Linked DNA regions of Homo sapiens. The protein of the gene in region 1 purifies or fractionates together with the protein of each later gene. This does not show direct contact. Each region holds a gene or a part of one and is shown on either strand. Other genes may lie near its edges. The genes, in order: ARL14EP, ACTR2 and ARPC2.

Region 1 (3,656 bases):
TTCCTCAGTTTTACAAGAAATTGCAGAAAATGTTCTAAAGCAGTTGCAGCAATTTACATTCCTACCAAAGTTATTATAAGGAGCATGTGAGAGTTGGACACATCTTAACCAGATATCAGATTTTTAAATTGATTTCAAGCAAATGTTTAATAAATGATATTTAATTTGCATTTTCCTAGGAACTATGGGGGAAACAGTTTGTATGCATGTATTGGCTTTTGTTCTCTTTCTCTGTGAATTGCCTGACTATATTTGTTTAGTTTTCCAGTGGACTCTGTCATTTTCTAATTGATTTTTGGAAGTGAGGAGTTACTCGAATATTTATGATAATAATCCTAACACCTTTCAAGTGTCTTTTTTTTTCTCCTTTAGTTATACAGAAATGTGTAAATTTTACATATAATCAAATATATCCATCTTTTTATTTATTTATTTTTTTGGTATCTGCTTGCTTGTTTGAAAAATTCTTCCATACTTCCATGTCAGAAAACCTTCTTTATTTTCTCATAAACATGTTTAGTTTTTCTTTTCATGTTTAAATCTTTAATCCACTTGTTATTGATTTTTGTTTGTGCAGAAGAGATCTAATTGTTTTTCCATATGGTTAAAGTCCCTTCTTCATTAGTGTGTGATACCCATCGATTAATAGTACCACATGTCATATACTGAGCCCTCATCTACTCATGGATCTGTTTGTTTATACTATACCAATACCATAGTTTTAATTAGAATAGGTTTAAAGTAAATCAATATGTTACTGTATTTTCCTTCAGGATTACCTTGGCTTTCTTAGACCTTTGCTCTTTCATATAGACCAGCTTGCTAAATTCCAAGGGGGTGGCAGTAGAATATCTGATGGAACTTTGATTGTAACAGAACTGAATTTACAGATGTATTCCCAGATAATTGACATATTTTTTATAATGAGCCACTCCATGATATATAGCTGCATTTATTTAGGGTACCGTTTTTGTCTTGCAGTTTGATAATTTTCTCCATGAAGGTCTTGTTGTATGTCTTTTGTAAGAGTCACATATTTTGTAAGATACAGTGTTTTTTGGTTTCTAGCATCCCTGGTGAATTCTCTTATTAGTTCTAATAGTTTGTTAAACCTCTTGTATTTCTCATGTATCTTAGGATAATATTTCTTATTTCCTCCTTTTTAATTCTTATGTGGTCTTAAATATAATCTGTAATTGCAGATGTTTTCGTGAAGTTCTGACTTTACAGGGAACGCTTCTGTTTGATTATTAAATGTCTATTATAAGACTTCGATAAATACCTTTTTTATTCCTTATTTTCTTTTAGATAGGTGTTGAATTTTATCAAATGCTTTTTCAGTTTCCTAGATAAACTTGCAGCACAAATTTGATTCTCTTTAATATTTTCTCTAGGGTGATCAGCCCATGACCTAAACCTCCAGACAAAATAAAACGGAAAATTTGCTAGAATCAAGAATGATGGATCCATGTTCAGTTGGAGTCCAGCTTCGTACTACAAATGAGTGCCATAAAACCTACTATACTCGTCACACAGGTTTTAAGACTTTGCAAGAATTGTCATCAAATGATATGCTTTTACTTCAACTTAGAACTGGAATGACACTTTCTGGGAACAATACAATTTGCTTTCATCATGTAAAAATTTACATTGACAGATTTGAGGATTTACAGAAGTCATGTTGTGACCCATTTAACATACACAAGAAATTAGCCAAAAAAAATTTGCATGTAATTGACTTAGATGATGCCACTTTTCTGAGTGCTAAATTTGGAAGACAGCTTGTACCTGGTTGGAAGCTTTGTCCAAAATGCACACAGATAATCAATGGAAGTGTGGATGTTGATACTGAAGACCGCCAGAAAAGGAAACCTGAGTCAGATGTATGTGTAATAGTCATTTTTTTCTACATTGTGAATTCTACCATGTAGGATTTTGCTTAACTATAAGAAAATCATATTTACATTATTACTAAATTTGTTAGCATACAGTGAATTAAAAGGAGGGGTGAAAGTGGATGATGTTTCTAAATATTATTCACATATACTGAAGGTCAAGATTGGGGGATAAAGAAAGTAGGCCTGGGAAAGTAATAATAAAATATGCCTAAGACTCCAAGCTACAACTTTTAGTGCGAAGACTTTAGGAGTGGGTTTTAGAATATTCTGGCCAAGCCAGGATTTAGTTTCTTTTCTGATACCAAAGTAACTACACGGGACATGGCAACCACCAAGGGTCTTTGCAGCAGGATGACTTCGCCTTTATATGAAGGACTTGGAAATCACTGCTTTAAAAGGAACATTAGAGAGGTGACTTACAGTAATTGTTTTTTATTTCACTCTTTTTTTCTCCTTTGACACTGTCTCGTTCTTGAGTTTTTTAAATGCTTGTGAATTTTCTTTGCTTCTAGTTCTGAATTCCTACTTGATATGGTCAAGGCTAATTTTAGGACTCCTTGAGGTAAAAAAAAAATAATACATTTTTACATTGTAAAGTATTAAATATTTTACCTCTATTCCTATTGACATGCCTACATGCATATTTAACCATATCAGAACAACTTAAGTTTTCATAAAGCTATCTTTTGTGTAGGACAAGTATATCAAAGAAGCACATCTCAGAATTTTTACTTGTAATTATTTCATAATTCTTACTGCTGGAATATTTTTCTCAGTTTTCTCCTTTTTATTAAACCAAGTTAAAAGATAGTTGAAATTTGAAATTATACTATTTTCCTGTTGTTGTCTTCTCAGAGGAACATCTTGAGGGCCCAGTTTATCTGTAGTTCATACTAGATACTTGCTGATAGTGTCATTGTAGATGTCTTCACCTTATCTATCCAATGTTCTTGTAGAATATATCAGCTGCAGCTCTTTCCTCCCCAAATAACAAACATAAACCCTTAAACACCGAAATTTTGTTTCACCAAAACTTTTCAAAAAGATTATAATACTATTCTAGAACTTGAAATCATATTCTCTGCTCTTAAAAATATATAAAATACAATAATAAGGACCCAGGATTGTTAGGAAATCAGTTATGTGCCACTGGATTATATAGCAGTTTTTGTGCCTTCTCTCCTGTGTTGGCAGCAGCCATTGCAGTTTTCACAATGCCTTCCTCCTCTGCTCCTAATATACCAGAGACTAAAATAAAATAATGGAAATGTTACTAATACATTAACCAATATGCTTTGAATATGGTCTAGGGCCATGTAAATTTTCTTGCACTTAGGCTCTAAAACCTTGTTTTCTTTTTTGTGTGTTCCAGACTGTCTTCCATGTTAGGGAATCGTCTGGTTTAACATTAAATAAAATGTTAATCTGTTGTCTGTTGTCAAGATTTGAGTTGATAATTTGTTTACCTTTCTTCAGGGAAGAACTGCTAAAGCTTTGAGGTCATTACAATTTACGAATCCAGGAAGGCAAACTGAATTTGCTCCAGAAACTGGTAAAAGAGAAAAAAGAAGGCTTACAAAAAATGCAACCGCTGGTTCAGACAGGTAGGCTAAGTGTTACTGAAGACATGTTAACTTGCTGCTTCACATCTGCATTGTTCCCCTATTTTTCTCTTAAATTTTGAATTTTCTGGGTTCATATTTTAAATTGGATAATGTAGAATTAGTAAAAACCTATGAAGGCCTTTGTTTTTATTCA
Region 2 (3,656 bases), on another chromosome or scaffold:
AGTTCTATGGCAACATCTGCTTCCAATAAACTACTGCTCAAGCAGAATAGTTTTATTAATAAGTGATTGATAATCTTTAATTTGAATGAAAAGTCTTTTTTTTTGTTAGGCAGTAATAGTAGGTTTACAGTTGTTTTTATAGTTTCAGGGATTTCAGTTTTTGTCTTCTAACTTGGGAAATGTTTGTTGCTTAAAATATACTCATAAGAATGTTAAGATACGAACTACCCATCTGAACGATTATAATTGGAAGACTTTGAGTGATGTGATTATTTGCCACTTTGCCATGTTGTATGTCCAGTGTGTGTAGCTCTGAAGGAGAGGGGAGACGTGTCAACCTTAGCAGCCTCTTCCCTGCACTAGGATCAGACCTATGCTCCATCCCAGGCTCCTCCTGCCACCTCCAGCTTCTCTTACGATTTCTCACTTAGTAAACTTATTTATTTGCATTCAGCATGCCAAAAATGAACCTTACAAACTGGTAGGTTCTCTTTTCATTCATTCATTCATTCTATAATTTTTTTGAGATAATTTATACGCATATAAGTGAGCATTTTCATCCGGATAAATGGATACTTTTGACTATATCTGTTTATTACTTGGAGGTAGGCATAATAATTTAATATCAAAATAGTATTTAATTCCCATATTTGAGATATTTGTGTAAATTATGACTGACATTAGGCTGGCGATCATGACAGATGTTATACAGAAATGTGGGAACAATAGGGATAATGATGAGAACAGATTCTCTTCCATATCATTTAAGTTTGTATCAAGTAAACTGGATTTTGACTTAAAAGAGAGTTTGTGATTTGGGAGAGAAGAGTGTGTGAGAGGTGTGTGTGTGTGTGTGTGTGCACGTGGTGTGTGTGTTATGTTTTAGTTTGAAAATACTAAAAAATACTAGATGTTATTCTTTTCCTCTGAGGTAGTTTTTCCTCCATGTCTTAGGTCACATTATTTAAGAAGACACTGAGAAAAAATGAACTACTACTCCTGAATTCTGTTCATTTTAAGGGTGGGAAGTGTATTCCAGTTCATCACTATCAACCACTGCCAAGGGGAAATAGCTGTGAGCAAGTGGGTTATCTATTGCATATGCTATCATATCATGCTAACTTCTGCCTTAAAAAGTAATCCAGGCTGGGTGCCGTGGCTCACGCCTGTAATCCCAGCACTTTGAGAGGCTGAGGCGAGTGGATCACGAGGTCAGGAGATTGAGACCATCTTGACCAACTTGGTGAAACCCCTTCTCTACTAAAAATACAAAAATTAGCCAGGTGCAGTGGCGAGCGCCTGTAATCCCATCTACTCAGGAGGCTGAGGCAGGAGAATTGCTTGAACCCAGGAGGCAGAGGTTGCAATGAGCCGAGATCACGCCACTGCACTCCAGCCTGGATGACCGAGTGAGACTCAGTCTCAATAAAATAAAATAAAATAATCCAAAAGAATTGTATTATACTTTTAGAAATGGATAGCTGTACCTGAAAAATGCCCTTACCTTGGTGGCTCAATATAAACTAAGACTAGGTTTGTGGGCTTGTAAGAAGACATCTGAATAATATGTTTTATGTAGTTTCTATTAATAAAATGTAAACATGAGGTGAAAGGATAGGAATTGAGGTGGCATTGGGAGTGTGAACTTTCCTCATTTCAGACGAATTTTTCATAAAAGCTTTAATCTGATTGTCATGACTGTAACATATTTGAAAAAACTCTGTTTTTAAAAGACTAAGTGGGGCCGGGTGCGGTGGCTTATGCCTGTAAGCCCCAGGCTGGTGGATTACATGAGGTCAGGAGTTAGAGACCAGCCTGGCCAACATGGTGAAACCCCGTCTCTACTAAAAATACAAAAATTAGCTGGGCGTGGTGGCAGGCGCCTGTAGTCCCAGCTACTTGGGAGGCTGAGGCAGAATTGCTGGAACCTAGGAGGCAGAGGTTGCAGTGAGCTGCGATGACGTCACTGCACTCCAGCCTGGGTGACAGAGCGAGACTCCATCTCAAAAAAAAAAAAAAAGACAAGTGAAATTCTGGATGGCAGAATGTCCTAGGCTATTTATAATTAAATGTGGTTCATCAGCGTCATCTCCAACAGGGCTGCTGTAGAGATCTTTGAAAATACCAAATTTTTATGTTTTGGAGAGCTACATAAGATCTTGCTAAGTTTTACCGCATTAAACAAAAGAGTTTCTTGTAGATAGTAGCTTTCTTTTGTTGTTGGTTTTTTGTTTTTTTGGGTTTTGTTTTGTTTTGTTTTGTTTTTTTTGAGACAGGTCTCATTCTGTTGCCCAGGCTGGAGTGCAGTGGCGTGATCTCAGCTCACTGCAACCTCCGCCTCCCAGGTTCAAGTGATTCTCATACCTCAGCCTCCCAAGTAACTGGGATTACAGGCATGCACCACCATACCTGGCTAATTTTTGTTGGTTTTAGTAGAGATGGGTTTCCATCATGTTGGTCAGGCTGATCTCAAACTTCTGGCCTCATGTGATTCAAGTGGTGTGCATAGTAGCCTTCTATCAAGAGGTACATTGCTCTTTTCTGTCTACCTTTGTTTTATTACTGTCATGTATCACATTCAGGTACTATTTTTCATCCTTAATTCTAAGAATGTGTGGTGCCTGGAGCCATAGAAAAACAGACTTTTTCTGAATATTAAATATATTTTAAAACAATCATGGTATCATACTGTTAAGTCAACAGCAAAACTTTTAATATTTATTGATCATTTACTGTGTACCTATTATGTGCCAGACGCTGTTCTAGGCAGTTGGAATTCATCAGTAAACACAGTGTAGCTAACATTAAATAAATGCTTGTTAAAGAGGGTGCAGACTATGATTACATTTCCTTTCTTATATAGCTTCCTCCTCCCACCCTGAAATTTTTAATTGCCCTTTCCTTGCAATGTCTGCTCTTACTAGACTATGTATTATTTATTTTTTGTATGTTTTTTGAGACAGGGTCTCACATGATCACGGCAGCCTTAACCTCCCAGGCTCAAGTGATCCTCCCACCTCAGTCTCTGGAATAGCTGGGACTATAGCACATGCCACAATGCCTGGCCAATTTTTAAATTTTTTGTAATTTTTTCCGGGGGGGAATCTTGCCGTGTTGCCCATACTGGTCTCGAGCTTCTGGGCTCAAGTGATCTACCTGCCTAAGCCTCCCAAAGTGCTGGAATTACAGGTGTGAGCCACTGGGCCCAGCGTAAACAGACTATACAAGAATTTGTAACTGCCGGGCACAGTGGCTCATGTCTGTAATCCCAGCAACTCAGGAGGCTGAGACAGGAGGATCATTGGAGGCCAGGAGTTCCAGACCAGCCCGTGCAACATAGTGAGACCCCATCTCTACAAAAAATTTTAAAACTTACGCTAGGCGTGGTGGCTCACTCCTGTAATCCCAGCACTTTGGGAGGCCGAGGCAGGTGGACCACTTGAGGTCAGGAGTTTGAGGACAACATGGTGAAACCCCGTCTCTACTAAAAATAAAAAGAATTACCTGGGCGTGGTGAGGTACACCTGTAGTCCCAGCTACTCAGAAGGCTGAGGCACGAGAATCACTTGAACCCGTGGGCGGGGGCGGTGGAGGCCAAGCTTGCAATGATCTGAGATGGAGCCACTGCACTCCAGCCTGGGCGACAGAGTGAGACT
Region 3 (3,656 bases), on another chromosome or scaffold:
TTCTATCTTTCTGCAGTACACAGGACTGACTCAGCCTGTGTAATTCCTGAAACTAGGAATAGGTTCCTGAAACTAGAATTAGGTGCTGAGTGCCATCACTTTATGGAGCTGTCATGGGAATCACGAAGGGATATCTGGCAATGCCAGTTAGTAGGAGGGTAAAGGGATGGTGCCTGGCCTCCAGGTAACAGCACTTCAGAGCTGCAAAAGTCTTCCAAGATCATCTTGTCGAGGACTCTTGTTGTAGAAAGGGTGGTTGTATTCCTCTGAGTTCATTCACCTAACAAGTAAATAGTACCAACACCTAATTCTTTATAGGGAACAGAAAGCAGCAACATCTCTCTCTGACTTGATGAACACATCTCTAGCTGTTCATGTTTCCCTACTACTCTAGTGCTAGGCAAACTAAGACTGACAGCTACTTGAAGATAATGTAATATTTCCAAATTAAAAAAAAAACACAACAAAAAAACCTCAGTTTTACCACAAAATTAAATCCAAACTTCTAATTTATCAGCAGGTAACTTTATATTGTCAGTCATCAGTGGATTAAATACATGAAATGGTCATCTATTATAAAGAGCTCAAAAAGACCTGATGAGGGACAGTATCCAAAATGTCAAAGCTTTTTTTTTTTTTTTTTTTTTTTGAGATGGAGTCTCACTGTCGCCCAGGCTGGAGTGCAGTGGCGCGATGTCTGCTCACTGCAAGCTCCGCCTCCTGGGTTCATGCCATTCTCCTGCCTCGGCCTCCGGAGTAGCTGGGACTACAGGTGCCCGCCACCATGCCCAGCTAATTTTTTGTATTTTTAGTACAGACAGGGTTTCATCATGTTAGCCAGGATAGTCTCGATCTCCTGACGTCGTGATCCGCCTGCCGTGGCCTCCCAAAGTGCTGGGATTACATGCATGAGCTACCGCACCCAATCCATGTCAAAGCTTATTTTAGGTACAATTTTCTTTTCTTGTCTCTCTCTTTTTTTTTTTGAGACAGTCTCACTGTATCGCCCAGGCTGGAGTGCAGTGGTGTGATCTCAGCTCACAGCAACTCCTGCCTCCCAGTTCAAGTGATTCTCCTGCCTCAGCCTTCCGAGTAGCTGGGATTACAGGTGCCCACCACCATGCCCGGCTAATTTTTGTATTTTTAGTAGAGGGGGTTTCACCATGTTTGCCAGGCTGTTCTTTAACTCTTGACATCAGGTGATCCACCTGCCTCGGACTCCCAAAGTGCTGGGATTACAGGCATGTGCCACTGCACCCAGCCTATTTCCTATTTTTCATATTGTACCTTCTCTTCAGAGGGCTGAGATAAAGATGCTTACCTGCAAATGTTACTTCTACTGCTTCCGGTTTGTTTCTGTAAACAACAAAAAAGGTCCTCAGTTAAGATGACTGTATTGCTGCTTACCTTCAAAGGGAACTGGAAAGGCACCTGAGCTTCACTTAAGATCAGACCATTCTGTATAAATTTTAGGTTACTGCCAATCAGAGTACACAATTCATTTTCTCATGGACCTGAACCTTTGGACTTGCTTTAAGTAGAGGATAAAAAAGGAAGGTCAGATAAAAAAGGAAGGCCAGCTATAGCTTTTGTTTTTCACCTGCTGTTGAATCTACTGCTTTGGTTGGTGCTCACTTTCAATTCTGAATTTCCTAACAACATGCTATATACCACAAAATGCCATCTTTTGGTCAATGCCTTCCCCACAGGACAGTGGTATTAGGAGTAAAACGTTCAGCAGGAAAATGGCTAAGTATAATGTAGAATGGTTTTAATATGCTTAAAGAGAAAGGATGATTTCGGGCCATAAACAAAACGGCAAGTTCTATTCCACTTCAAAACCCGTCTGTAAGCCTTCCTACTCATCTTTCTTTCTTCCTTTACATCACCAAAGTACTTACCACTCACCTTCAAGAAACCCTCTTTAGTTCTACCCTAGTTTTGTCTTGCTTTGTAAATTCCAGCTCGGAACTTAAAATAGACAGTGTAACACAAAATAACACTATGAAATCACTAAGAATAGTCAGGACATCTGCTTTACAACTTTAGCTTTCTCATCACGCTCATGTTTTGGGACAAATACCCTTACACCTTTGCATTCTCCCCTATCATCAATAAAATGGGGGAATAAAAATGAACCTATTTACCTCATGGAACTACTACATATAACACAAGAACAGACCTGAAGTCCAAAGTAGGAAGCAAATGAAGACTATTGCCTTACCAGCTAGCTACCTGTAAACTCAATGATTCCACTTTGTTTTAGGGGCTAGCAAACAAGATGCGCATGTTTTCACATTTATTTTTGTCTAACTTGCTCAAGACCTCTTAATCAAGTACGTATCTTTCCACGATCTCTGCTCCATTACCTGCGAAAGAAACGAAGACTAAGTTGCTCTCCAGGGATGCTGGGAAATAATGGAATATATAACATGGTTTATGAGTGTTAAAAAGCTGATATAGAAGCCAGACAATACCTTTCAAAAAAACTGGCTTCTATGAAGCATGCTAGCCCTGCTGAAAAATCAACCTATACGAATCATACAAAGCTTCACCTTGCTTCTTCAAAGCCCTATATGTGACTTAGGAAAAGCGCACTGGGTATCTCTACGAATTGAAGTATCAAGTGGGTTTACGGAGAAGCAGAGAGTTCAGAATAGAAGGAAAAAACTAGATGAAAATTTAAATTGCTTCTGAGCCTTCATTTTGAAACTGTAGCCAGGAAACAAAGGCAACGAGTCCAATACCATTCCTCACCTCTAGAAAACAAGAGCAAAGAACAAAAATATGGAAATGTTAATCATGGACCAACTGAATGAAATATTAAGAGGATGACCAATGGGAGGAAGCATGGAAGCATACTTTCCTGGGGAAGGCTGACTGTGCTGAAGAGTCAGGGAGTTTATAAAAGCCCATTATTACATCACTTAGTAAGTTTTTTTTTAACCTTTAGGTTTTAATTCAGCCAAAGAAGGGCTGAGTTCCTCACTCTCCTACTTTGTCAAAAGACCTGAGAAAAACCAACTATAAATAAATAACCTTTGGGCTCCAAGTCATACACACTTTGAGTCTCTAATTTCAAATTTCTCTAGGCATAAAGTATCCTGAGCACAGATCCTTGTGGGAAAAGTTGCTACGATCGATCTTAAGTGGTCTGCTGTCTGACTTAGCAATATTTGTCAAATCACATTCATTAATATTTTAGTTTACTATTTATGGCTAGAAGAGAGAGAATGGCTGCTGAGGAGAGTATTAGGCCAAAGGAGACTTCATGGGAAGTCTTCTGGGAGTTAGAGGTCCGAGAACTCAGTGCCTTAACGATGAGTTTGCTGAGCGTGAAGTATACCATCACAAGATTGCTTCTCAATTCCAAGACCTGGCGTTTGTTATTTTACTTCTGTGGTTTAAAATTACAAAGGAGCGGGAGGAAGACTGGCCCAGGAAAAGTGTTCCACTAAATAGGCCCCCAGAATTAATAGTTACATTATTTACTGTTCTACCAGCTGCTAAAATTTCAGATGCTGGGGGTGAGAAAAAGCAAGTTATTTAGAATTCAGAATTTATTGGCTATGTGACCACAGGCAATGCTCCTCAAATGTCACCGGGCCTCAGGTTCCTCTTCTACAAAATGGGGACAAAACATCTACCTCCCAGGT

Evidence for each region.
Region 2: the proteins of ARL14EP (region 1) and ACTR2 purify together in Homo sapiens (affinity purification with mass spectrometry; one large-scale study listed by BioGRID and IntAct). This does not show direct contact.
Region 3: the proteins of ARL14EP (region 1) and ARPC2 purify together in Homo sapiens (affinity purification with mass spectrometry; one large-scale study listed by BioGRID and IntAct). This does not show direct contact.

What each region holds. Positions count from the first base shown.
Region 1 is NC_000011.10:30,329,492-30,333,147, forward strand, and holds part of ARL14EP (ARL14 effector protein), read left to right. Parts: intron 1-1,394; 5' UTR 1,395-1,457; coding exon 1,458-1,883; intron 1,884-3,374; coding exon 3,375-3,502; intron 3,503-3,656.
Region 2 is NC_000002.12:65,234,331-65,237,986, forward strand, and holds part of ACTR2 (actin-related protein 2), read left to right. Parts: intron 1-3,656. UniProt on the Homo sapiens protein: ATP-binding component of the Arp2/3 complex, a multiprotein complex that mediates actin polymerization upon stimulation by nucleation-promoting factor (NPF).
Region 3 is NC_000002.12:218,223,620-218,227,275, reverse strand, and holds part of ARPC2 (actin-related protein 2/3 complex subunit 2), read right to left. Parts: intron 1,357-3,656; coding exon 1,322-1,356; intron 1-1,321. UniProt on the Homo sapiens protein: Actin-binding component of the Arp2/3 complex, a multiprotein complex that mediates actin polymerization upon stimulation by nucleation-promoting factor (NPF).